Homo sapiens: one gene and its partners. The protein of the gene in region 2 interacts with the protein of the main gene of each other region in a pairwise test. Each region holds a gene or a part of one and is shown on either strand. Other genes may lie near its edges.

Region 1 (7,026 bases), on a different chromosome or scaffold from region 2:
GGATGCTAATCCACCATGTTGACTTCTGATTAACTTCAGTTCCTGGAAGGCCTCTAAGATTTCCCACTTATCTAATGTTCCTTGTGTAAGAACAGGTACTTACTTACTATAAATCCTGCCCTTAGGTCAAACAAACTTGATGTTACCCTACTTCAATAGTTCTACAAATCCTTTCTGAATCACCCCTTTCCTACCATATATAAACCCTGGGTCTAGGGGGTAACGGCTCGGGGATCCACCATCTTGTCTCGCCATCGCCCGAGATACAGATATGGCTTCTGTTCAGAAGTCCCAATTATAGGTTTCTTTCTGATAAACTAGATTTGTCAGCCTCTTTCTTCAGCCTCTCAGCTTCCTTGAACTTTGAGATAGGTTTGCATAGACCTGCCCATTGCTAAACAAGGATCTATTAAGCCATACTAAGGATGTAATCCTCTTATATGCAAGCAGGAGTGATTTAAAGGTTTTTAGCAGAGAGTAATATGATCATATGGTTATAAAGAGTTGGACACAAGATGGGCACATAGTCAAAATCTTAGGAACCTTCTTCATCTTCCAACATCTTGCCCGCATGGCAATTATTGCTGCAAGAAAAGTTATTAATTGTTTCACCCCTTTGTACCTTGTCCCTTTACCAGTCAGCTATTGCTCTTTTTGTGTCACTCCCCCTCATCCTTTTATTGTAGGCTCCCAGAAGTGCTCCAGATGTAACAGACCCTCAGGACTGCAGAGTGTCCATCTATCATTGTTGGATCTGTAACATATAAGGGCTGGAAGCCCTAAGCAAAGAAATGAGTCTGAGTCAACTTAAACAGAGAAGACATCATATGGAGTAAAAATAAAACAATGTCAGACACATCCTTGACATTATAAACCCATATAACTGAAAGGGATTTTAGAAACCATTTAACTCCTAATTTCCCTCTTACGGGGGAAGTAGAGCCCAGAACATTTGATGTAACCAGCCCAGTGCCACAGAGATGGTTAGAGTCAAAGCTGGAACTAGAACTAGGTTGCCTGGTTCCCAAATAGTCTATGTGCACAAAAAGAGGGCATTTTCTGAGATGTTGCCACCCCTACAAGGTCAAAGCCTTTCTTAGAAGAGTTTTCTTCTTCTACTAAGCAGGTTCTATTTCATCAAATAGAACAAACAAAAACATGCTAATTTCCAAGACAGGGACATTCTGTTATCTTCTCCCAACACTGGATAACATGAGCCATCTGTTTAGGAAACACTCCATGACCACAGTTCCCTCTTTATCACTTAGGGCCTTATTATCTACTTTAAAAATTCTTCAGATCCTGACCTTTTCCCATGGTTCTCCATCTACCTGCCTGTGCCAAAGCCATTTCCTGATAACTGGGAAGTGGGAAGGGAAACGAAGTGAATCTTTAAAAACTATTTTGGCAAGTCTACTTAAGAGAAATTGTTGGAGGGGAAGTTGAAACTTTTGGCTGAAATGCAATGTAGTCTGATAATTCACCCTCATTTCAGGTGATATTGGCCAAGGCTACAGTGAACCTAGCCAAGGGGGCCACTGGGAGCTAAAACACAAGCGAATGTTCATCGGGCCAGGATCCAGGAGGCTATTGCTTCTCCAAGGAGGCACATTTTTCATTTCTCACAAAGGCATCCCATATCTTGGTTGTGGCCCTGATAAAGGATCCTTTTCCAGCTGAAGGTCTTCTCTACTTTCCAATACCAGTATCCACAGTCTTGATCCCTAAGAACAGAGCAGAAAAAGCCAATTCCCTGAGCCAGAGAAGTGAAAACTGGTCTGGGGAGGAAGATCCCAAAGTGCTAACACAGCTAGAAGATCCCAGAGAGCTAAAGCAGCTGTATTACCATTTGCCCGGGCCTGTCCTGATTTATACCTACTGTCTTGGAAAAACAACTGAGAGCCCTTTCATTCTCCAAAGTGTCCCAGTGGGAAATGATAAATTTTATGGTTACCATTGTCTGCAGTTCTTGGGGTTAGAGACCTCCAAGGCATCTACCAATAGAATTCAAGGCATCCACCAATAGAATTCAAGGCATCCATGAACTTGCATGGAAAAAAAAGTCGCAACTTTGTTTGTGAAGCTTAAATGGCAATGTACCATCTCATTCCCATTTGAACACAGGCCATAAACCTCAATAGTAGCCATACTAGTGATTATGTCACCAATATAAATATTTTCATATCACAATACAGCTGCCACAGTTATCTCATAGTAGCATTTATGCCCATTCCTACTTCGAAACAATAGTAGCCACTAGTCCCACTACAAGATCTTGTTATAGAGGCATTATTATGTAAGAGGCACATATATTAGTAACAGTGGTTTCTTTTATAAGTCGATAAACAGATATTTCAATAAAATTGGTTTGTGCTATAATCTTATGTATTATATTTTATGCATTTAAACACCATTCCAGGGCCCGCAGGCTTTGTCAGACTGTCAAAGGGCACTATGGAGTAAATCAGAGTAGAAGACCTTGGCCTGGAGATTGATAAAGCCACATTAATGTGGCACTCTGATATGTGAGAAAGAGACCTTGCCCTCTGGCTGGGGAGCTAGGCTGCCTTTGAACTGATCTATGCTATGAGGTATTATTTAGTACATTCCTCTTCCTTATAAGCCCTCTTCTTTCAGTCTTTATTACTCCCATTCTCTTTTTTTTGTCTTCTCTTATTCTTATGGGATTTTTTTTTCCCCTTATCCTTTGGTTTAGGTTTACTATCAGATATCTCTTAGTCTTACTGTGCTAAGTATTGGGTTCTCTTCCTTTGGATAGATTTTTTTTTTTTTTTTTTTTGCCATGCTTCTCTTACACCTCTTTCTCTCCTGCCCCCACCTTTCCCACCTTTCTCTGCTGTTGTCTGCTGCCAATTGCTTGGCCCTCCTGACTTGGCTGGCCACACACCATACCCCTTTCACAGGTTTTGTAGCAGAAACATTGGGTATCAACAGTCCACAGTACATCTTCCCTTTGGGAATCATTTTCAGTTTACTAACAGACACTGTTTCTGAGCCACAGTTAAAATAACAAACTAGCCACCCCAATAAAAAACCACACAACACATAGCAGCAGGAAAATAAAAACTTTGAAACCCTAAGCTTAAATATAATTGTGGAAAGGGTGAAAAGTATTCCACTTAATAATCCCTGATGGCCAGACATCTAGAGAAGATCAGCAGCCTGGACCAGGACTCTTCTCAGTGTATAAATTCCCAGTGCAGCATAGGGAAAGCATACTGCTTAGTCACCGCTAACAGGGGGAGCCCTCTGTAGCAGGCCTATACAATGATTATTTCTCCAAATCAGAGCTCAGGTTAGAAGACTCAGGGGAAAGCCATGAGACCTCATGACCTTTGTGCTTTAGCTTTAGAGAACTATGCACTGTGCCTTCAGCACTGTCCTCGCCAGAGGACGTATTTGTCCTGAAATATTATAGCAGTCTCTCCCAGTAAGTTACTGAATACTTCTTCTATCAATGACCTAAAATTGGAAGGAAGAAGGGAAGAAAGGAAGAAAGGAAGGAAGGGAGGAAGAGTGGGAGGGAGTGAGGGAGGGAAGGAAGGAAGGACGCAGGGAGGGAGGGGGAGGGGTAGAGGAGGAAAAGAGAATAAAAGGAAACTAATCTGTATTTGAAAACATACTTACCACTTTGTCAAATATTACTCCATGGTTGAGAATAGCTTCACATTTTTAAATAATATTTGTTTCCATTTTATTTCTAATAAAAGGCACCTAAAGCATTTTTTAAACTGTCTGAAAAGGTAGTGACATTTGCACTGGACAAGTATTAACATAAAAGGTAGCTTAGAGAGCTTAGGATCAAATGAAACTGTAAATTTCATAACCTTTCCTAATCTGTTCATTTATCCTCCTAAAGAATAAAATCTGTTTTTATTTGTGGAGGATTTTTTTTTTTTTTTTTTAGTATTTACTCATTTATCTATTTTGAAAGAACTAAATGGCCCTTACTATTAACTTACCACCTGTGGTGGAGAAATAGTATGTTCAAGCCTATCAGCTTTTGAGAAGATTCCAGATTTCATTCTCATATGAAATGGCCATTTCATATGTCATTATCATGTTGAGATGTATTAATTCACTAAGTTTTTATAAAGTATATGTAGATATATACTAACATCTCAGAGCTTCCATCATGGCTCCAAACCATTTATCAAATAAAGTTCATCAAAGTCACAATCTTCAGATAATAAAATGAATACAAAATTTATTAATCTTATGGATTATTCAAATCTAAATATAGATTAAGATATTTTATATTTTTTTAAATAAAATCAATAAGGGTAAAGCTTCTCAGGTCCTACTCTGAGCTTTTTTTTTTTTTTTTCCAGTATCTTCTTCAAACTCTTTCTACAGAACCTTATTATTTAGCTTCTCTTGCTATTAAAATTAATCAAGATCAGATATTCCGAATCTTGATTATTTTTTTTCAAATATCTTACCCAAGACTTTTAACTCATACTATGTATTGTATAAACATATCTATTCATTGTGTTCTGAATAAAAGTTTTTATTTTTCCATATCCTTTGTCTTAGAGCATATTGCTTAATAATAATTGTTATTCTAAATGTCAATGAACTCATATTTATATGATTTAAGATAAAGGTACACCCCAAAGAATCTCCCCAGCAGACGTGTCATGTGGGACTTTTGATATTGCACCACCTAGCAGCCACAGTAAAATAAGTAGAGGGGATTGGACCACATAAGTAAGATGAGGATAGAGCTCCCCTGAATAAACTGGGAATTGGAAACCAGAATGTCTGCCCAGGTTCCAAAGGATTCCCCTTCCTGTGGTTCCTAGGACATAGACCATTTCTTTTGGATATTGTCACACTTAACTTCAGTGTTATGTCTCTTTTCTTTAACACTGCTGCAACTCAACTAAGCCGGTATCCCCACCTCCAGAAGGTCACCCTTCTGGATGATCTGGTTTTGAATGGCTCTTCCTGAAGAGTGGGGCAGCTGTGCAAGTTTTTCCTACTTGCATAAAAACAAAATTGACTTCTAATGAATTCTCCGGAAAATGAATGCTTCTCCTTGAGATAACTGGGGTCTTGGGGATTCAGAACAGTCAACCTGACACAAAACGCAGACTGAGGTCGAGGGTAGGAAAAAAAGGAAGAGGAGGAGCAGCTCTTAGTGCACGTTGGCTCTCTGTGGGCATTTTGGTCACACTTGGGTGCCTCAGCAGCCAAGCCTCACCTCCATCTTCCTCCACCTCATCCCTCCTCTGACAATATTGTTGCCTCACTCTCTTCTTTTCTTCCTCCACTATAGGATGGCCTAGGTCCTCACTATAGGATGGCCTAGGTCCTAGTGTGCCACAGCATTAGAGATGGAAATCCTATTCCAGGTGACCTAAAAGGCACCAGGTTTCCACTATCTGTCTATGACTCTTGCCCCGCTGATCTGATTCTGAAAAACAGGATTCTTCTATCCCTCCTCCCTGTTTACCCTGGCTGACTTTTTGTTGGTTTGTCTCCAAGGGGAGGACATCCTGGTACTACAGCTACAGAGAAAAGACATGAGGTGTTCTTGGAAACTAGAACTTTGTCCCACAAAAACGCTTAAAGGTATATGAAATCCTCAAGTGACTGCAGAAAGTCCCCTTTGTTGAAGGGGCCAGGTAGGCGAGGAAGTGGCAAATATTATCGGAAGTGACAAAGAACTATTTTTCCTCTTTCTGAGCCCCAAGTACAGAAATATATTGTTTTGCCTCAGCTTTACATCAGCATAAACTTTAATGAAAAGTCAAGAATCCAGGAGAAATCCAAGAATTTATGCCACTGTATTCAAAAGAATGTTTCCTGTGATAGGAAAAATTCCCTGTTATTTTCACAAATACCTGGGAGTGCAGAAGGATGAAGCAACTCAATCTAACAGAAGACTGCTAAAATCATTAGAAATCATTTAATCTTATTTAGAATCATCCAGAGGTTTGCATAGTTAATTTTTGTTGATTTGAAGGCTTACAAATATTCTGCAATGTTTTATTTTTGCAAAAAGAGTCACATTTGTGGTAGCTTATTCATTATATATGATATAGAGTTTTTCTGGTTATGCTGATTGAGAAGCATTTATACGAAAATAAGCAAAACAGTCTTTTTAAAAATAAAAAGCCTTTTCCTAATTAATTTTAAGATGTTAAAAAAACAGCAGGAGTGAGCATAATTTATTTATGTATAATGGTACCATATTTGAGCAAGGGTCAAAAGGCAGTGGTTCCAGCATTAGTTATGCTACAAATGCACCAAATGGCCTTGAGCTCAGCATTGAATCTCCTCCCTGAGTCTGGATTGGGTGGGATAATATCTGAGATCCCTCTTAGCTCTAACTAATTATGTGACTCAATTCAGAGAGAGGCTTTCATTTGCAGAATACAACTGCTACATAAAACTGCCTCTAGTTTTTGACTACAGAGCAAATCTCTGTTCATATTTGGATCCCTCCTTCCATTTACCTTCCTATTTAAAAAGGGAATGTCTACAAAAGGTTCAGAAGAGAAGTCCATTACCAGTAGCCAGTTCTCCAAATCGATTTCCTCTACTAGTATTCCACTATACCAAGGTGTACCCCAACAAACTTTGAGACAGGCGATATGTAACATCAGTCTCCCTAATACTCTAGTCACAGGGGCTCACAGGCCAGGACTGGCACTTATAGTACGCCGCTGCAGTTTGGAGTAAAGGGTGAGGGGCCTCACTCATGCTTCCTTCCAGACAAATGGTTTTTAGTACCAAATAGGGCTGGGAGTATGGGACACACTCAGTGTTCTCTGATCACCAGACCACTCAGCCCCACCATTTCCTGGCTGAATGTCAATAAGCAAATAACTTGAATTCTTCAATACTGGGTTTCTCCATCTATAACATGAGATAAATAACTCTACCCATTTTTCAGGGTTGTTGTGAGGGTTAAATCTAACACAAACACACACAACATCAAAGATAGTGTCTGGCACATAGTAAGAACTCCACAACTGCTAGCTAGCACTGATTGTT
Region 2 (7,119 bases):
CTGATACCCGACAGGTGAATAGGAGTGCGAGACCATGTGAGTCTCATCGGGGGCGGGGTCCGGTGGAAGCCAGAGTCACTACGGGGTAGGAAGCCGTGTCTCGCTAGGGTCTTGGGACTAGGGGCCTGACAACCTCTGGTCGGGGCGGGGGCGGGGGCGGAGTCTCTCGAGGTAGATGGCGAAGCCACGCCAGGGTCTGGGTACTGGGAGACCAGGCGACGCCGGGGACAGTTGTGTCATCTGGGGAGTGGGGAGCGTCGGGCCTGGGAGGGATTGGGGTGTGTTAGGATCGTAGAGCTGGGGGTCGGGCCCACGTTGGGGTGGAGTCTCCTCCAAGCACAGGGCTGAGGCGGGTCAGTCCGGGAGGGAACTGGAGGAGGGGGGCTTACCTGGAACTGCACATAGTCCCAGCTCTCCTCGGCCGCGGTCTCCTCGGGGTTGGTGCCGTACTTTTGGATGGTTTTCTCTACGACGTCCCGCAAGCTTCGCTCCAGCTGAGAGGCCACCAGTGAGGCTGGGCCTTATCTTCCCCGCCCCACCCCTCCCCCTCTCAGGCTGTGCCAGCCTCAGGCGGGCCCTGTGCATCTCTGGGCCAGTCTCAAATCCTTACTGAATGGCTAGCTCTGTGTACTTCAGGTCTGTCTTTCTGTTTCTTCCACTATTTCTACGGCTCATAAGTCTCTGTCTCTTCTTTCAGGGCGTCTATTTCTTTCTCTTGTTCTCTCTTTTTCCCGTGTGTTTCCCTTTGGAGCTGTTTATGCCTGTCTCCCTTGGTCCAGGTCGGTGTGTCTTTCTATTAATTTATTTTTTGAGACAGGGTCTCACTCTGTCACCCAGGCTGAGTGCATGGCTCACTGTAGCCTCAAACTCCCTGGCTCAAGTGATCCTCCCACCTCGACCTCCCAAGTAGCTGGGACCCCAGGTGCACACCATCACACCCGGATTTTTTTTTTAAATATAGATGGGGTCTCACTATGTTGCCCAGGCTGGTCTCAAACTCCTGGACTCCCACCTCAGCCTCCCAAAGTGCTGGGATTATGGGATTACAGGCGTGAGCCACCAGGCCCAGCCTCTTATTTCTCTTTATCTAGGTTAGCCCCTGTCTGCCCTTGTTTCGGTCTCTCTCCACCCTCTCCCACCACTCCCTTCCCTCTCCTCCCTGCTGGGGGTGGGTGGTGGCCACTGCAGGAAGCTCACCTGGGCCCGCTGAGTGGAGATGAGGATTCCCAGGGTGATCTGTGTGGCAAACAGGAGCAGCAGCATCCCAAAATACTGGGGAGCAGAGTGGAGAGATCAGGCTGACCACCCCTGCAACCCCGGCCCAGGCCATTTTTGAGGGTGGGGATAGGAGTGTTCCTAGGGACGGAGAGGGATGGTGCACTCACCAGGCCCAGGAGGCAGCGGAGCTCCTTGAGGGCCCCCACACAACCCAGGAGGGCGATGCCCATGGTGAAGATTCCTGAGATGGCCAGGACTTTGGACCAGATCTGCAGAGGCACGAAGGCCAAGCCTGGGAGAGGTGAGGGGAGTGATGATGAGCTGTGTGGCACAGCTCCAGGCAGCCCCATTTCCCACCTAGGCAGCCACCCAAGTGGGGAGCAGTATCTTGGTGCCCCTCTCTCTGGGACTCTGTCCCTGCCCCACCCTGAGTCCCTGTTTCCTTCTGAAACTTTCTCTTCTTTCTGGGCCTGTTTCCCGTCCCTGGATCTCTGTCTCTCTTCCTCTTACCCTCTCCTTCCTCCTTCAGCTCCTCCTCGTCCCCAGTAGTTTCAGCCCTATCACTTGTTCTGTGACATTGGCTTGGCTCCTTAAACCTCCCTGAGGCATAGGAGATGATATCTATTTCTTAGGGTTTTTTTTTGAGTTGGAGCCTCGCTCTGTCCCCCAGGCTGGAGTGCAGTGATGTGATCTCGGCTCACTGCAACCTCTGCCTCCCAGGTTCAAGTGATTCTCCTGCCTCAGCCTCCCTAGTAGCTGCGACTACAGGCATGTGCCACCATGCCTGGCTAACGTTTTGTATTTTTGAGTAGAGACAGGGTTTCACCATGTTGGCCAGGCTATTCTCGAACTCCTGACCTCAAGTGATCCACCTGCCTCGGCTTCCCAAAGTGCTGGAATTACAGGTGTGAGCCACCGCGCCCGGCCCCTAGGGTCATTTTGAGAGACACATGAGGACATGTGTTCAACCCAGTCCTCAACACAGGGCAAAGACTTCTTAAATATGAGCGTTTAGGGTTATATTTCATTATTATTTAGGGTCATACTTCATTATTATTTTCCTATTATTAATGTTATTTTGGCTCTTTTACGTCCTTGCTGTATGACATCCATCAAGGGGCTTCCCCTCTCTGAACCTCAAGCGAGGGGAAGGTTTGTGGGGGCATCTGACCAGCCACAAGTCCCGACAGATAGGAAGTGCTTGAGAAATGGCTCTCATGATCATTGTTGTTTGTATGCACAACCCCATTTGCCGGAAGAAGACTCAGGCTCCAAGAAGCCTCCGGTGAGCAGTGGATGGGAGCCTGTAGCCTGCCTGCAGAGTAGGGCACCGTAGGTCTCCCTGAGACAAGGGAGACCCCAGGAAGTTGCTTGGGTTGGGGGAGGCCCTCCCACCTGCCCCAGCCCCCCTCACCCACAAAGGACACGAAGCTGGTCTTGTCAATGAGGATCCAGATGCCGAAGCAGAAGATCAGGCTGCCGAGGACCTGGGGAGAGGAGATGCGGATACGGGGGTGGGCCACAGGGGAAGATGAGGGCTGGGTTAGCGGCAGGGGCTGGGCCCCGGCTGGGTAGCCATGAGGCAACTCACGAAGAAGAAGAGGTTGAAAACGAAGAGGAAGTACTTGATGAGGCTGAGGCAGCTCTCCTGGGCTGACATCTTCACCTAGTGGGGTAAGCGGTCCACTCACCACACAGAAGAGGTGCTGACAGTGGGGGAGACAGGGAGAAAGAAAGAGGCTGAGAGAGAAAGAGAGACGGAGAGCTGAGAGAGAAAGGAAGAACCCCAAAAGAGGAAGTTCCAGGGGTGGGGCTCCACCCACTCCCGCTTCATGTAAGGTGGCTTTCTGTCTCTCTCTCTGTCCCTGTCTCCCTCACCTGCTCCACTGGGACACATGCTCTGGTACCTGAGGGGCCTTGGAATTTGTGGGCACCAAGGACTCATGGGGCAGTCCCTCCCAGGTCTCCATGTCTCAGGCGCTGGGGGATCTAAAGGGACCCCTGATCTACTGGAACCCACCTCTGGGCATGGGGACCTCAGGGCTGACCCTGGACAGCAGCTGACCTCACAGACACTCTGACCTCATGGCCTGCTAAGCTCTCCCATCTCTGCATCCAGCTGTGTCTCCCATTTCCTGCCCTGGGTCTCTTGTTCCTCCTCTCTGGGTCTTTGTCCCCACCTTCCTGCTACTCCCCATCTCTGTCCCCTTATCTCAGCAGAGTCTCTCCCTCCTCTGGGTCTCTGTCCTCCTGCCTCCTGGGGTCTCTATCCTCCCTCTCTCTGTGTTTCTTTATTTTATTTATATATTTGTTTCTTTTTGAGACAGGGTCTCACTTTTCACCCAGGCTGGAGTACGGTGGGGAAAACAGCTCACTGTAGCCTGGGCTCAAGCTATCCTCCCACCTCTGCCTTCTGAGTAGCTGGGATTACAGGTGCACACTACCATGCCTGGCTAATTTTTGTATTTTTTGTAGAAATGGGGTCTTGCTATGGAGTGGGAGTGTTGTATTTTTTATATTTAATTAAAAAAAAACAGAGATAGGGTCTCACTAGGTTGCCCAGGCTGGTCTGGAACTCCTGGACTCAAGCGACCCTCCTGCCTTGGCCTCCCAAAGTGTTGGGATTACAGGCGTGAGCCACTGTGCCTGGCCTCTCTCTGCTTCTGGCCCCTTCTTTGGGTCCTTCCTCCTTTCTCTCTTCATCTCTCTTTTGTTTTTGTTTTTGAGACAGGGTCGCCCAGGCTGGAATGCAGTAGTGCGATCATAGCTCACTGCAGCCCCAACCTTCCCAGGCTCGAGCAATCCTTGCACCTCAGCCTCCCAAGTAGCTGGGACTACAGGTGCACACCACCATGCCTGGCTAATTTTCTTCATTTTTTGTAGAGATGGGAGTCTCACTGTGTTGCCTAGGCTGGTCTCAAATTTCTGGGCTCAAGTGATCCTCCTGCCTTGGCCTCCTAAAGTGCTGGGATTATGGGCGTGAGCCACTGTGCCCAGCCTGTCTTCTTTTCTCTGTCTCCCCCTTCCCCACTTGTTTTTGTGCCTCTCAGAGTCTGCAGCCTGTTCTGGACCAGGGAGCACCCAGGTGCTGGGGGCAGGGGCTGGGTACCTGGGGAAGTGAAAGTGCTACAGGCTCGAGGTGGGAAGGTCCCTGGGAGTGGGGAGGGCGCTGGGCCGTGCCAACACCCCCAGCGGAAGCTGAGCATCAGGCGGTACTTCCTGCCTCTGCAGTGGGGCCCGAGGAGCGGAGGCCCCAGAGGAGGAGGCACTGAGCCTGGGATCCTGACAGTCAGATCTGGGTCTGCAGTGCCTGGTTGCAGGTGCACACCCAGTGGCCTCTGCAGTTTCCTCTGATGTCCCCAAATTCTCTCACCTGGTTTCCTCATCTGAGGCAGCCCCACCATCTATCTAGTCATGAGGTCAAAGCTCCATCTTGTCCCCTCTTCCCCAACAGCGCATCAGTCTCTTAGCCAGATCCCTCCTGCCTGCTGAGTCTCCACTCCACCCCTCTTCTCTGTCCTGAGGGCTCAGGCAGGCTCTGGGCTCCTGCTCTCCTACCTGGACCCTGACTTTAGGCTTCTCCCTGGCTTCTAGTTTCTCCCTCCAGTCTGTCCCCCACATAGCCCCAGAGGGGTCTTTTTGAAACCCAGTCCTGAGCCACACAGTTCTGTATCCAAACGCTGAGTCACCACCTGCCTCATCCCTCAGCTTTTATTTTTTTGGTGGTTGTTGAGACAGAGTCTCACTCTTCGCCCAGGCTGGAGTACAGTGGTGCAATCAGCTGACTGCAACCTCCGCCTCCTGGGTTCAAGCGATTCTCCTGCCTCATTCTCCCAAGTAGCTGGGATTACAGGCATGACCCACTACGCCCGGCTAATTTTTGTATTTTTGGTAGAGACGGGGTTTCACCATGTTGGCCAGGCTGACCTCGAACTCCTGACCTCAAGTGATCCGCTCACCTCGGCCTCCCCAAGTGCTGGGATTACAGGCATGAGCCACCACACCCAGGTTTTTGTTGTTGTTGTTGTTTGTTTGTTTTGAGATGGAGTCTCACTCTGTTGACCAGGCTGGAGTGCAGTGGCACGATTATGGCTCACTGCAACCTCTGCCTCCTGCGTTCAAGCAATTCTCCTGTCTCAGCCTCCAGAGTAGCTGGGATTACAGGCATGCACCACCATACCTGACTAATTTTTGTATTTTTAGTACAGACAGGGTTTCACCATGTTGGCCAGGCTGGTGTTGAACTCCTGACCTCAAGTGATCCAACTGCCTTGGCCTCCCAAAGTGCTGACATTACAGGTGTAAGCCACTGCGCCCAGCCCCTCAGCTTCTGTTTCTAACCACCACCAACGCCTCTCTGCTCTACCATTAAAGTACATTGCAAACCCAGCCACTTCTTTCCAAGGCCACCATCCTAAGTCAGGTTCCCATCATTTTCTACAAAAATAATTATAGCTGATTATAGTGGGTTGCATGGCGTTCTCCAAAAAGATATGTCTATGTCCTAATCCCCAGAACTTGTGGTGACCTTATTTGGAAAAAAGGGTTTTGCGGGTATAATTACATTCAGGATCTCAAGATACTGCATTATCTGTGTGACCCCTAAATCTGATGACAAGTGTCTGTTTTTTGTTTTTGTTTTTGAGACAGAGCCTCGCTCTGTCACCCAGGCTGGAGTGCTGTGGTGTGATCTCGGCTCACTGCAACCTCCGCCTCCCAGGTTCAAGCAATTCTCTGCCTCAGCCTCCCGAGTAAATGTGATTACAGGCAGGCGCCTGCCAGCACACCCAGCTGATTTTAGTATTTTTAGTAGAGATGGGGTTTCACCATCTTGGCCAGGCTGGTCTTGAATTCCTGACCTCGTGATCCACCCACTTCAGCTTCCCAAAGTTCTGGGATTACAGGCGTGAGCCACCGCACCCGGCTGACAAGTGTCCTTCTAAGAAACACACAGAGGAGAAGACACAGAAGAGGAGAGCACCATGTGATGGTAGACACAGAAATTGGAGTTCTACAGCCACAAGCCAAGGAACTCCTGGAGCCACCAGGAGATGGAAGATGCAAAGAACTGATTTTCTCTCAGAGCCTCTGGAGGGAGTGTGGCCCTGGTGACACCTTGATTTTGGACTTCTGGCCTACAGAACCATGTGAGAATACATTTCTGTTGTTCTAAGTAGTAAGTCTGTGGTAATTTGCTATTTCAGCCATAGGAGACTAATACACCAATCCCTCCTTCCCACCCACTGATCCCTCCTCAGAGATGAGTACATGATTAACCAGAAGTCGAAGGGTAGGTGGCAGAGTGCAGTGGTGCAATCACGGCTCACTGCAGCTTTGATGCTCACCAACTTGGTTTCTTCTTTCCTAGGCACACAGGAGGACTTCATTTCCCAGGTCTCCTTGCAGTGAAGTTGAGGCCATGTGACTGGTCTTGGGCCAATGGAATGGGTGCAGAAGGGACACAGCCCATTTCTAGACTCAGCCTGAAATGTCCTCCATAATCCTTACTCTTTCTCCCTTCACTCACTGGCTGCAGGAAGCTGAGAATTATCCTTGGACTTACATAAAGCATTTTGGACTTTATGTAAGTAACAACCTGTTGTATTAAGCTACTAAGATTTTACGGTTGTTTGTTAAATCAGCTAACCTTAAACATCCTAACAACTACAAATAGAATACCTGTTACTGCATACACTATATATATCAAAACATTATTATGGGCCAGGTGAGGTGGCTCATGCCTGTAATTCCAGCACTTTGGGAGGCTGAGGCAGGAGGATCACATGAGCCCAGGAGTTCGAGACCAGCCTGGGCAACATAGTGAGACCCTGTCTACAAAAATTAACAAAAAAATTAGCTGGGCTTTGTGGTATGTACCTACAGTCCCAGCTACTCAGGAGG
Region 3 (7,242 bases), on a different chromosome or scaffold from region 2:
CTAATGGTACCGCTTAACCAAGCCTGTGACCTTAGACAACCCCCTGAATCTTTTTCTGTATCTGTCCCTCTCCATCCTATAGGAGCCACAAGAGGTTCAAATGAAATTAGAGTTCAGGAAGACTTCAGAGCCCTGAACAAATGAAAGGTGCTAACACCTTCACCATCATCACTAGGAAGAGCCAGTAAAGGTCTGAGGCTATCTCTGCTATCAATGTGACATTGATCAATGTCCTGACTAATGATTGTGGTGGCCTTTCAATGTTAACACTCATCCATGCATCACTGAGATCATCAGTAGGAGTGAGCTTATAACAATGTTCCCTGCTGTGGGCATGTATACATGGTGTCCTTATTTATAAAGTTAGTATGGGTTTGTACATGAATAATATGATTTAATTTTGTTAAGTTACAACTCCACATAGTCATGTGAACCAACTGGAATCTCAGATGTTTTTGGTGATTTATCTAAAAACAAATATTGCAGATAGAAGTAAAAGGCTTTCAAAGTCATTGAACAGTGCTGGACCACTTTTCTGCTAAAAGAAAGCTATTGGAGGGCAGGGGCGGGATTACAAAGTTTCGACCTACCTTTGTAACACCAATGACTCTAAAATAATGTAGGTCTTCTGGATTGGGCCAACTACCTTTGCAGGAAACATCTTAACCACCCCACATCAGGACCTCTCTTCCAGTAATAAGTAGAGAAGAGCGGTGCTGAGTGGAGACTCTCATTTAGTTACCCACACTAAATGTGGGTAACTCAGTGCTGGGTAACTTTACAGTCAACAAAGCCTCTCAAATCCCCGTTTTAGAAACCACAACAGAAAGGGCCAGTAGGCTTCAAACACCTTAGGGACCAGCTCTATTTCTTCATCTCCCTATGTCCTCAGTTTTGCATAGGGCAAGCTCACAGGAGGCCTTCATTCCTTCTTCCAAGTAATCTCGAACTGAGCACCTACTATGTACCAGGCACTGGGGCTATCATTTTGGACAAGACAGATGAAGCAGTTTTCATGGAGCTTCCACTGTAATGGTTAATACAGACTATCAACCTGCAGACAAATCAATATAACTCTGGCTGCTGCTATAAAGGAAATCTTGGCTGAATAAATGGCCCAAGTGGCTTATCCCAAATCACAGCATATTAAATGATGGAAGAGGCCAAAACTCAAGGTTCCTGGCTCCTACTTTCTCTCCCCTTACATCTGCTGCCCTCTATCCTTCACTCAGCAAAAGGGCCACACATTTACATCCAAAGAGGCCCAGTCACCAAAGACTCTATGATCCAGTGAAATTTATTCAGGCCTCAAAGCGCTTACCTGCTTACCTCCAAATGAGAATGGAGGGACTAACTGGATCCCACCCTTTCCCAACAAAGCTTACTCTTACAGAGAAGGGCTTAGTAAGGCCTGGGTTCTTGCAGTGCCTATTCCCCAGGGCATGGCTTTAGGTGTTGGCTGTACAGAGAAAACATCCCTGTAGCCCACCAGTTTATTGGCTAGTTCTTTAGGGAAAGTCAGACTACTGGGCCCTGCTTTGGGACAGCAAATCCCTCATGTATTTATTAAGCAGATTTACTAATAAGGTCAGATGGCTAAATCTGACATGGTAGTCTTAGCTTCAACATCACCAAGCTGCAAAGAACCAAGAAGCCTCATTTATATGAATAGAATTCACTGCAATAAATAACAGTAACATCGTTTATGAAATGCTTGGTACGTACTAGGGGCTTTGTGTGTACTAAACAGCCCCTGAGGTATATATGCTCTCTCAAAGATGAAGAAACTCAAACAGGGAATTTCAATAATCGGTCCCCTAAATATACAGCCAGAAAAGTGCAAGGCCTAGATTCTGAGCTGGCGAAGAAGGGCGAATTTGGGATAATTAACACACTCGGATATACAAAAACACAACCGCTAATCCACATGACAGGCAGGCTGTTGGAAAGTTACGAATGCACCGCAAGCAAAAGATGCCACCATGGGCCCAGAGAATGCAGGAAAGTGGGAACTGACTCTTACGCCCTTCCCCCAAGGCGAAGGAAAGGCAACCCCTGAATTCTTAAAATAACTCTCGCTTCCTCTCAGCCGGCAAAAGCACCGGACTGCTCCTCGGCAGGCCGAGAGGCGCCGCAGCGGGAGGGTGAGTTCCAGCCTCCGCTGCAGCCCCTCGACGTCACGCTCCTGCCCGGGGCCACCAGGGAGGGCAACTGTCCGCGGGCCTCGAGAGGGCGCCGGCCGAGCCCCATCTCCCACTGCCAGGAGACCCAGGGTCCAGAGGGGAGATCAGATTGCACAATCCGAGGAGTCCTCTCCAGTATCCCCGCCGCGCGCCCGCTCCGCAAGGGCAGCGGCTTCCCCACTGTGTGCGAGAAGCGGCCGGAGCAGGGACAGCAGCCGGCCCTCGGGCCCTCACCGGGAAGGACACGCGGTGAGCCCGCCCCCGCGCCCGCACCTCCCACCGCTCCCCTGCGCGGCTCCGCGGCGGACACCTGCGGAGCCTCAGTCCCCGCGCCCTGGCTCCCCCGGGCCCGGTCACCCGTCGGCTGAAGACATCTAAGAGCCTTCGCCGCCGGAGCCCAGAGGCGGTGCGGCCAGGAAGCCGCCGCGGGCCGCGCCGATGCCCCCGGCCCCGAGTCTACCCTGCGCCCGGGACTCCGGCTGGTGGCACAGCCGCGGCCCCTGCACCCACTGCCCGCGTGCCCGCGCCCACCCCTGGGCTCGCGCAGAGGACTCACCCGCTCGCGGTGAAAGTTTCGGGGCGGCGGAGCTCCACGGTGACTTGAGTTCAGAGTGGGGGGCGCGACGGGGCGGCCCAGCAGGACCTGCGTATGGGGAGGCTGCTGGCCGGGAACGCTGGACGCGCGGCGAGGGGCTGCTGGCGCGGGGCCGGGGGTGGCGCGGCCGCCCCGCTTGCCGCGGGCTGGAGGCTGCAGCGCGTCTGGCCCGGAGGCGCCACGGCCGGGGAGCGAGCGGCAGCGCGGCCCGGCGCGGCGGGAGAGGAACTGGCTGTCTCTGGGCTCGGCCGAGAGGTCCCAGCTACTTCCTGGTGCTCGGATTTGCATATTGAGCCCGGAGGGCGGGGAAGTGACCGTTTGGTCCCTGCCCAAGGTTTGGGTGTTTGGTGTGGCCGTCGCGCAGGGCTTTGAAGGCACAGAAACCTGGCGACTCAGTCTGCAGCTCCGGGGAGTGGAGCAGCCCGGGCCAGCCTTCTCCTGTAGGGACGGACGGAAGGATCTCCAGAGGAGCCTGGGCTTCGCAGGCACATCGACTACACCTCTCGCGTCTCCTTTCCTTTCCTTCCGACCCATCCCCAAGGTATTATTAGGAAGGGGGTGCTCCCAGGAGCGGAGGAGGTGCGCTCTGATCCCTTCCAACATTAGGGGTTCTCTAGAGAAAGGATGCGATATGCCGAGGTGATGCTCGGGGTCTCGCTGAGTTCTTAATAATCATTACAAAGTAAGTTCCTTAAGGGTGTACAGGAGGCTGTTCAGGGCATTGATGGGGGAGGGGATGACGTAGAGTCAAATGGCCCGGCAAGTTCTCCGTTTCTCAAAGCCTCAGTTTCCTCCCAGGACAATGGATGTGAGGATGCCTATCTCGTGTACCTTTCTGTACAGGGCCCGCACTGCCCGCATGCAGGAATGCTGGCGTTATTTCATTCCTACTACAGCTGCGTCCCAGCATGTAGGGCAGTGCTTGCACGTAGCAGCTGGTGCCTAACCAGTGTTTGCTGAAAGAATGTGTGACCGCGTGCTCAAGCTCATGTTCAACTCAATAAATGCCACTTACAAATCCAAGATGTAAGATTAGGCTCGGGCACCGTGGATACCCACTTCTTCTAAGCCAGATTCTGTTCACTGGGATCTCAGCATTGCATTAATAGCAAACATTTACAGAGGGCCTGATGGGCCAGACACTGCCCAAAGCACTTCCTTTCTCTCATTAACAATGTTCTGAAGAGGCTGACCCCAGCTACAGAGCAATAAGTCAAAGCAGCTGCCTTGTGACACAATCTGATACAGCAGTTATTTGTTACTAGGAAAAGAGTACTAAAGTTTGCATACTAATTCCTTAAAAGAAGAAAGGTGGTTTATACCTGTGATGTTCACTGGTATGTAGTTGTTAGTTTACTGCTGAAGAGAAGGGGTGGGTTGCCCATGGAAATACCCATGGGAAGGTGTGTGATTGAAACCTATCAAGAATCCTATGGAGAAAAATAGAAAAATGAAAAAAGAACAAAACAAAACAAAATGAAACAAAAAACAATGAATCCTACAGAATAATTCACTACCTGAGGGCCTATTGCCTAGACTTTTCTTAAGAATGACCTCTCAAATATATTAACCCTACATTAAAGTTTCTGCTGCTACTGATGAATCCTTGAGATCCTGACTAAACGTGTGTGGCAAATAAGAATAGGATTCAAAAACGTTTGGTATTGGTTAATCTATCAGGAATGTCTGTCAGTGTTTTTGGTAAAATGTCTCTCAGGGTAAGGAACAAAGCATCATCAGGCTTACCTGAGCTTGCAACCAGATCCCCAACTCCCTAACTCCTCACAAAATTGTCCTCACTAAGTTCATCTCTTCATTCTTATTTGGAAAAAAACGATACGATGCTAATTTCCACTTCTTAGGCTGCATTTATACTTGCTGAATACTTCATTCAATCATTCTCCATATCTGTCTTTCCTTCTTAATGTCCCATGAAAGTTCTATTTCTCAGGAAAGTTTTATTTAAAGCTCCTATTGATAGGCAACTTTTTAAAGCATCTGTAGCATGTATGGTGTGCAACATTATTTTAAACTAGACCTAGGTACTTTTTAGCATTGTTTGCCCATGTTAGGCTTGTCTCCTCAACTACTGGTAAACTCCTTTTGGGAAGGCACTGCCTTTTATATTTATCTATTCCCCACTCTACCTCCCAGAAATTATGTTGGGTGCTTTAAAATAGTTCATTAGTATTGATTGATTGGTTAATTGATTGATGACTGATTTATCTCACCAGTTTTCTCTAAATTGAGCACAGAAGGCAGTGATCAGAGGCAGGGTGCAAATCAATTAAGGCTCCTTGACAGGATAGATGGGCCTTTGAAGAAAGGAAGGAATACGATGGGCGGGGCAAGAGAAGGCGGTATTGTAAATACGTTATGTACAGTGTATCCTCATTTTTGCAGATATCATATTTGTGAACTTATCTACTTGCTAAAATGTATTTGTAATCTCAAAATCAATACTTGAGGTGTTTTCCCAGTCACTCATAGATATGCACATCCCAGAGCAGTAAAAATCTTGAGTTGCCCCACGCACACCCTCCCAGCTATAGTGGAACAAGGCGATGCTCTGCCTTCTTGTATTCTTTTTGCTGTCCATTTAGTTTATGCTTTCCACACTTCTGTGCTTTTTGTTGGTGATTTTGCTGTTTAAAATGGCCCCCAAGCGACTGAGCTCAGTGGCTCATGCCTGTAATCCCAGCACTTTGGGAGGCCGAGGTGGGAGGATTGCTCGAGCTCAGGAGTTCAAGACCATCCTAGGCAATATCGTGAGACCCCCCCCACAATAAAAAAATTAAAAAAAATAAAAATAAAAATAAATGGCCCGAAGCGTAGAGCTTGCTAAAGTGCTGTCTGTTGTTGCTAAGCACCAGAGGCTGTGGCGTGCCCACTGGAGAACCGTCCTGCAGGCAGGAGCTACTGTGCTATTGGTTGTGAACTCAATGTAATGAATCAGCCATATATTAAATAAGGTGTCCATTAAACAGAAACACACACCATATAAGGTTATGTATTAATCATAATGTAATGAAAATGTTGTGTCCAGAGACTCACAGGAACCTAAGAAGCAGTGACTCGGTATTCGCTAATTCAGTGTTCACAGTGACTATAGAACATAACTACCACAAATAATGGGACGCAGCATACAAGAGCATCCCATCATCCACTGTGGGAAAATGAAATATCTGACCTCTAGGAACTTCTTCATTAGCACCGCCATCATCATCTCATGCGTGGTCATGGTGCTTGAGGCCAGGATTGGTCATGCTGCTCACCTGTTCATGTTGGTCCACCAAATCATCTGTGCTGCAACCCATCCCACTGCCACTGTGTGGGCTGCCCCTGCTGCCTCTTCTAGTATTCTTCCACCTAACTCTTGCCAACTTGGCCACAGACCTAACTACCAAGTAGCAAATAATACAGAGTAGTGGTGCTCAACCCTGGGGGCACATTAGAATCACCTGAGCTGCTAAAATATCTCCATGCCCAGGCCCTACCTAGACCAGTTAAATCAAAGTCTTTGGGGGATGGGGATGGTGAGGGGAACCCCAATTATCAGAGACTGAAAACCTTGCCAGGTGGTTCCAATGAGCAGCCAAGTTTGGGAACCACTGGTGGAGTGTGCTCCGCCCTCCCCTAGCCTGGAGCTCACCTCTCTGAACAACGTCCACCTTCCTCAAGCCCTCATGCCCCCAGGTCCTCTGTCTTTAAGAGAGTAGCATGTGGCCAGGGGCAGTGGCTCAAACCTATAATCCCAGCACTTTGGGAGGCTGACGTGGGTGGATCACCTGAGATCAGGAGTTTGAGACCAGCCTGGCCAACATGGTGAAACCCTGTCTCTACTAAAAATACAAAAATTAGCTGGGTGTGGTGGCTCACACCTGTAGTCCTAGTTACTCGGGAGGCTGAGGCAAGAGAATTGCTTGAACCCAGGAGGTGGAGGTTGCAGTGAGCCAAGATCACGCCACTGCACTCCAGCCTGGACAACAGAGTGAGACTCGGTCTCAAAAAAAAAAAAAAAAAAAAAAAGTAGCATGGATATATGCCTCTGTGTGAGGGTAAAGTGGTAAGGATTGAGAATATTAAACCTGTATTACTGGGGAAAATGGGTGACTTTAGCACAAGTGATTATAGATACAAGGAATTAATAAAGAAAAACAAAAATTGCTAAGAATTATTTTAGGCTACAAAAAAATTTTAACAACTATATGAAATATTATTTATACATAAATTGCCACAAGGTAGATTTTTTCTTAAATACTTATCCAATGTTAACCGGTATTACAGGCCAGGCACAGTGGCTCACGCCTGTAATCCCAGCACTTTGGGAGGCCGAGGCGGGCAGATCACGAGGTCAGGAGATCGAGACCATCCTGGCTAACACAGTGAAACCCCATCTCTACTAAAAATATAAAAAAAAATTAGCCGGGCATGGTGATGGGCACCTGTAGTCCCAACTACTCG
Region 4 (7,026 bases), on a different chromosome or scaffold from region 2:
CTGGTAATTTTGGAACTGTGAAAAAGGGCTACTACCAAATGAAAAAGTAAGTTGCTATGTTCCACCAGCCTCACCCTCACATGAGCTCAGGTTCTAGACATGACTGAGAATAACAAAATGTAACCTGGCATGACTAAACCCTTTTTTTATTAATGCTACCATTCTTGTTAATTTCTGGTACTATTATAATGAAAGCGTCCATTACCTTTAATGGCAAAAACTGCAATTACTTTTGCACCAACCTAATAGTACATGCACCTTATGGAAAATTAGGAAATAGAAACAAGCAGAAACATAAGAAAATAAAAACATCAAATTGGCATGGTGGCTCATGCCTGTAATCTTAGCAATTTGGGAGGCTGGGATAGGAGGATTGTTTGAGGCCTGGAGCTTGAGACCAGCCTGGGCAACATAGCAAGACCCTGTCTCTACAAAAAAAATAAATAAATAAATAAATAAATAAAACATAAAAAATTAGCCAGACATAGTAGTGCACACATATACTTCCAGCTGCTCAAGAGGCCAAGAAGCCAAGGCTGCAGTGAGCCATGATTGCACCACTGCACTCTAGCCTGGGTAACAAAGCAAGGCCCTGTTTCAAAAAACAAAACAAAAAAAAGAAAAGAAGAACATCATATTTGTATAATACCATCCCAACACTACTACTGTTAACTAAACATTACTACTGTTAACTTAATCTTATTGTATATATTTTTAGATCTTTATTTGTACACACAGATATTATTTAATTAAAACAAAATCATTCCATTATAACAATAGTTTTTACATTTATTTTCTTTAATTTTATAGTTACATCTCATTTTTCTTACATGAAAATTATTGATTCCAAATATGATTAGTATAATTATTTATTGGCTTTATCCTATGATTTCAGATAACAATACATATTATACAACAGTTAAAATTGCTAAATTTCGAAAATATCTTTGTATTTCTTTTGGTCTTTAGAAGGTACCCAACATAGAATGTACAAGTAAAACTACTGGTTTCTAAAGTCCTTTGAAATACACCCTCTGTTTGAATTGGTATGATACTAATATGAATGTGGTTAGATTTAGTAGCTTCATGGTATTTCAAATGTAAGGGATTTTTGTAAAAAAAAAATTCGTGAGTAGGTAATTTTTATGATTCAAGGGTTAAAAATATAGACAAAAATATACACAGACATGCGTGCTTTCCGGCCGGGTGCCGTGGCTCATGCCTATAATCCCAGCACTTTGGGAGGCCAAGGTAGGTGGATCACCTGAGGTCTGGAGTTCAAGACCATCCTGGCCAACATGGTAAAACCTCGTCTCCACTAAAAATACAAAAAATTAGCTGGGTGTGGTGGCATACACCTGTAGTCCCAACTACTTAGGAGGCTGAGGCAGGAGAATCACTTGAACCTGGGAGGAAGAGGTTGCAGCCAGCCAAGATCACACCATTGCACTCCAGCCTGGGCAACAAGAGTGAAACTCTGCCTCAAAAAAAAAAAAAAAAAAAGAAAGAAAGAAAAAAGAAATGCTTGCTTTCCAATCTGTCCCTTCGATTTGTTTTTGTGCATGTGTGTGTGTGTAAATTAGATACACATACATGTATGTATACACACACAAACATACACACATATGTATACATTCACAAGTATATACATGCGCACATATATACACACACAATCAAAATTGGCTGTGATACTTATTTTAAAATATATGTTTGTATATCACAGTCATTTTGTACAATGAGTAAAAATGTTTCTGTATTAATCCTAAGCTTTTTCAGATTATGAAAGGTTGTGATCTTTATTCTGTGCTTAAATTTGTGAATTAACATAGACATGACTGTGGACATAATTTCAACTAGAGAATTTGGGGAGAGGAGAGGCTCTCTCGGTCAATTTGGGGCAAAATGATGTCTTTACAATACTGAGTCTTTCAATCTATAAACACAGCCCATCTCTCCATTTACCAGGTCTTCTTCAGCCTCTCTCAGGAGAGTTGTTTACCTTTTCAATGTATTACATTGAAATATATGCTTTTAAATTCTGCACCTAGAAATTCACTTTCAACAATTATGAAAGGCATTTTATATTCACATTCATTACATGTAATCTGAGATGGTGAATCCCAAGATGTTACAGGAATTCGTACATGTCATCGTTGGTGAAGTTTATTTACAAGTTATTTAAATATTTTACAGTTTAGGGTTTTTGCTTGGTTGGGACATTCTTCAGTACTGTTCTTCACCATTCTTTTTATTTTATATTATTTTTTAGAAACAGTGTTTCACTGTGTCACCCAGGCTGGAGTGAAGTGGCAAGAAGCTCACTGCAGCCTTGAACTCCTGAGTCCAAGTGATTCTCCCACCTCAGCCTCCCGAGCAGCTGGGACTACAGGCTTGCACTGTCACACCTGGGTGATTTTTTTTAGAGATGGGGGTCTCACTATGTTGCCCAGGCTGACCTTGAACTTCTGACCTCAAGCAATCCTCCCCTTTCAACCTCCCAAAGTATGGGGATTGTCAGCATGAGCCACCATGCCCAGCCCCCACCATTCTTTTTTAGTAATGGAGTATTACTCTCATTGTCTATAAAATAAGGGAATATAGGTTGGAAGGCCAGCCATCCATTACAGGCTTCTGAAGACACATTGCCACTCTGTGGCAGGTATTTCCGTGGGACTGTTTCCACAGGGGGATTATGCTTCACAGGATAAGATTATCTAGAAGTGAGGCATTTTGGAAAGTTTCTTGTGTGTTATGATTTCTCTTGCAGAGTTGTGAAAACCGTGGCTGTGAAAATACTGAAAAACGAGGCCAATGACCCCGCTCTTAAAGATGAGTTATTAGCAGAAGCAAATGTCATGCAGCAGCTGGACAACCCGTACATCGTGCGGATGATCGGGATATGCGAGGCCGAGTCCTGGATGCTGGTTATGGAGATGGCAGAACTTGGTCCCCTCAATAAGTATTTGCAGCAGAACAGGTATTGTCAGGTGCCCCCACACATCTGGAAGCTATCCCCTAAGGGACAGGGCCCACCCCTGGATGGGCCGAGCAGCCTGATTTCCTTGGGAAGCCTTCCCACCCTCCTGTGCCTTCCTTTATTGGTCCATACTCAGGGACCTTGACAGAGGGACAGGGAGACATAGTCTTTGGATTCAGCTCTGTTAGCTCTAGTTGTTCAGAGAAGAACTCATTTGACAGTTTTGTCTTTTTTTTCTTCCTGTAGTCATTCAGTCTTGGCCTAGTGATAGACTCAGCCTCAGAATATCTTGACATGGAATCTCCTTTCTCACTGGGAAGAACACTTTCTTTTTAAAGAAACATTTTAAATAAATGCTTTTCTAAGAGGTGACAGTTAAGTCTTATCTGTTTGGCTGACCTTATGTTCTCATGAGTGATGACTTCTGAAAATACCAATCACTGCTAATTGATTACATCCATCAAGGGAGTAATTGTGTTCTTCTCATCTAAAGCTGTTGTTGAGATGAAGAAACTCACTTGGAGTAAGACAGAATGATGGCCACCGAGGAGCTTGCCTCATTTGCTGTGCTACGTTTGTACTTAGATTGTCTCTTTAGTCTCCATGGAAGGGAGGTGTTCTTACCCTGACTTTGTAGGTGAGAAACTGATTCTCAGGGTTAGTTCTGTGACCTGTGTGATACTGGAACAAGGATTTGAGGTGGTGCCTGGCTATCTGTGAGCCAGGCCTGACTACTCTGTTATACTGCTTTTCTTGCAATTCCAAGCATGCCAGGAAACTCAATCCCATTGAACACCAGGAGAATATGGCATTGAGTCCTGAAGAGCTATATGCTAACAAAGTTATTTGTCACCACTCGTGAGTTTTGTTGTTTAAGAAGAGGGAAGGAGTAGATTCACCCACTGCCTGCGTGAGGAGCATGGTTGTTTGTTGTGAAATGGGTCACTGTCTGTTATAGCTGATGAGATCATTATGACTTTCAGACATGTCAAGGATAAGAACATCATAGAACTGGTTCATCAGGTTTCCATGGGCATGAAGTACTTGGAGGAGAGCAATTTTGTGCACAGAGATCTGGCTGCAAGAAATGTGTTGCTAGTTACCCAACATTACGCCAAGATCAGTGATTTCGGACTTTCCAAAGCACTGCGTGCTGATGAAAACTACTACAAGGTAAGTACAACTTAGCTAATATTCAGAGCAGCAGGTGGTAAAAAATGCAAGATAAATGTACGTTTTCTTTATTTTATTATTGGTATGGTTTCAAAAAGCAGTTTTGCTACTGAAAAATAACTATGTAAGATATGTTCTTATAATCTTTGATTTTACTGTTTAAAAAATAAAAATAATATCACACCTTGAGATTTACTCAAAGTAGTATATTCTAAATTATGTTTCATGGAATGATCAGGAATCGAGGTATTAAGTGAAGATTTGTTTTGAAAAAAGAAGAATGGGATTCCTTCATTAAGTTAATTTGAAAAGTTTGCATTGGACAGCTTGATTCTTGCAGGATTTCCCCGAAGCCCTTTTCATGCTACTTAACATTACGAATCTCAGTAGAGGGTTTACTGCACTGCATTTCTCAAACCAGATTCATCCATGGCATCCTTTTCTGATAGGACATTTCATAACATGTGGTGGAACACTGTCCCACAGCATGGAGCTATTGGAGCTTGGAGCTCCAGTACTGCAGTTCAGAGCTCCAATATTGCAGCTTGGAGCTATTCCAAAATAACTTTCTAATGAACACCTACCTATACATGCAAAAGTTAGAAAGTGAAGATTTACCAAATAAACTCGTCATCTGTGTATGTCCACTACATATGTAGAAATTGTTCTATTGGCTTAACTGGTATCCAGAAGAGTTGAAGTGTCAAAAAATAGATGCAGTGCTGGAAAGAAGAGATCTAGATAGTTATGTGACTGAAGCTAAAAGAAATATGCCCCTTGGTTTGGTGAGGCAGAGATTATCAAGAATTAAGGGTGGACTTCCAGCAAAACATAAAGTAGAAACTAGTTCTGGGTGCAGGTTTGGACTTCCTAAAAAATAATTTCACAGTGACCAATCCCCTTGCTAATATAACTTGACCCCTCTCTGAACCCTCAAATGAACCAATAACAACTAAAAGAAGAAAAGATAAGAAAGCTCTATCTTCATATTAACTCATCTGTGGTGTATACCTAGGGTCTATGTTAACCAACTGGAAAACGTGATGGCACCAATCCCACTGAGTCAAAGAGGGTGCCGAAGGCAGGTTAACAACCCTGCTAGTCTCTGGTGAAGTCCACATGCTCAGAAATAGATGGCAGACCTTCAAAATCTACCTAGTGGGTGGCAGATAGGATCCTGTGTTTCATGCCCTGCAGTGGTCAGAGACCCCACCCTGAGTGACAATACCCACCCACTCACCTTTCCCTAAGAGGCAGTCCATGGACTGGTAGGTGATGGGGAATGGTGGACCTCGGCCAGCAAAGGGACTGCATGAAGGGTAAGCCACAAGAGCCAAGCTCCCAGGCAGGCAGGCAGACTCCACCATCTTGAGCACAAAGGCCAGGCGAGAGTACAGCAGGGGTCAGGCTGGCCCTCCTCACCCCATTCTTCATACAGTAGCTTCCCAGAAGGAAGCCCCTTCAGAGGTGAACCACTGTGAGAAAGGCATCAGCATGGGCCTGGATAGAAATAGCAGGGAAACAGAGCAAGGAAGACAGCAGCCTAGGATGACCAGCATGGGACATGCTGGAGAAAGAAGCCTGTTGTAATGCTGGATGTACCTCATCATGATCATTACAGAAAAGAAGACAGCCTGTCTGAAACAAGGACACAGAGGAGATAGAGAAAATGAAACATGAATGCTGGGCACCTTATCCACTGCTGTATAACAAATCACCCCAAACTTACTGCCAAAAACACCACCAGGTGTTGGTTTCCCTGCCGTCCTGCTGTGTGGGCAGGGCCAGGTAGGCAGGGTTCAGTGCGTCTGCTCACACAGGGGATTGCACAGTGGCCCGAGGGACAGGAGGACCGTTTCCACTCTGCTCACTCACACTACTCAGCCACTGAGCAGCTGGTTAGACACAGCCCATGCTGGAGACCTCTGCGGGGCTGTCAGCCAGCTCACCTGCACATGGCCTCTCCTTGGGGCCCTTGGGCTTCCCTTGGGCCCATGCTTCCCTTGGGCAGCATGGCAGCTGCGGGCTGAGAGCAGTTACCCAAGAGGCAGGAAGTGGGGGCTGCCAGGCCTATAAAACCAGGCCCAGAAACTACCTCAGGGTCACTTCCACCTGATCCTATTGGTCAGAGCAGCCAAGGCCACCAGCTTCAAAGGATGGGATAGATAGAACCACCCTTTTGAGGAGAAGTGTCAAAGAGTCAAAGAACATGGGGCCAATTCTAAAACTGCTGTAGATATTAAACAGCATACCATTAAAAAGTAAACTAAACTAAAAAGTAAACCAAAGATTGTCTTTGGACAATCAATGAAGAAAAAAAGCCACTAGGGAAATAAAAGCCATCTTGGAAGCAGCAAAAAGAGACAAAACTACCGAAAAGATAGGGTAGTGGAAGATTTCTGTATGAAAACAAAGCAAAGTGAAATGGAAAAGAATAAAAAGTGGGCCGGGCGTGGTGGCTCACGCCTGTAATCCCAGCACTTTGGGAGGCTGAGGTGGGTGGATTACCTGAGGTCAGGAGTTCGAGACCAGCCTGGCCAACATGGTGAAATCCCGTCTCTACTAAAAACACAAAAATTAGCCAGGCATGGTGGCAGGCACCTGTAATCCCAGCTACTCTGGTGGCTGAGGCAGGAGAATTGCTTGAGCCCGGGAGGTGGAGGTTGCAGTGAGCTGAGATCGTGCCACTGCACTCTAGCCTGGCCAACAGAGCAAGACTCTGTCTCAAAAAAAAAAAGGAATAAAAAGTGAAACAAGATCAAAGAAAAGTGCTAGCTGTGGAAGCAAACGAACGCTGGCACTCGGGAAACCATGCGTGACAGGGTAGATTTGTGCAGCATCACAACTGAAAAACACAGGTGTTCTTTGATCCAGCA

What was found.
Region 1: the proteins of CD37 (region 2) and LRRC3B interact in binary tests that used the Homo sapiens proteins (3 or more experiments, as listed by UniProt).
Region 3: the proteins of CD37 (region 2) and LYN interact in binary tests that used the Homo sapiens proteins (3 or more experiments, as listed by UniProt).
Region 4: the proteins of CD37 (region 2) and SYK interact in binary tests that used the Homo sapiens proteins (3 or more experiments, as listed by UniProt).

What each region holds. Positions count from the first base shown.
Region 1 is NC_000003.12:26,625,746-26,632,771, reverse strand, and holds part of LRRC3B (leucine-rich repeat-containing protein 3B precursor), read right to left. Parts: intron 1-7,026.
Region 2 is NC_000019.10:49,331,300-49,338,418, reverse strand, and holds the start of CD37 (leukocyte antigen CD37), read right to left. Parts: upstream 3,014-7,119; 5' UTR 2,879-3,013; coding exon 2,810-2,878; intron 2,706-2,809; coding exon 2,633-2,705; intron 1,511-2,632; coding exon 1,386-1,510; intron 1,273-1,385; coding exon 1,198-1,272; intron 495-1,197; coding exon 390-494; intron 1-389. Other genes in the region: SLC6A16 (orphan sodium- and chloride-dependent neurotransmitter transporter NTT5), read left to right, coding at 6,707-6,802. UniProt on the Homo sapiens protein: Structural component of specialized membrane microdomains known as tetraspanin-enriched microdomains (TERMs), which act as platforms for receptor clustering and signaling.
Region 3 is NC_000008.11:55,875,601-55,882,842, reverse strand, and holds the start of LYN (tyrosine-protein kinase Lyn), read right to left. Parts: upstream 3,009-7,242; 5' UTR 2,740-3,008; intron 1-2,739. UniProt on the Homo sapiens protein: Non-receptor tyrosine-protein kinase that transmits signals from cell surface receptors and plays an important role in the regulation of innate and adaptive immune responses, hematopoiesis, responses to growth factors and cytokines, integrin signaling, but also responses to DNA damage and genotoxic agents.
Region 4 is NC_000009.12:90,874,804-90,881,829, forward strand, and holds part of SYK (tyrosine-protein kinase SYK), read left to right. Parts: coding exon 1-46; intron 47-2,767; coding exon 2,768-2,977; intron 2,978-3,960; coding exon 3,961-4,150; intron 4,151-7,026. UniProt on the Homo sapiens protein: Non-receptor tyrosine kinase which mediates signal transduction downstream of a variety of transmembrane receptors including classical immunoreceptors like the B-cell receptor (BCR).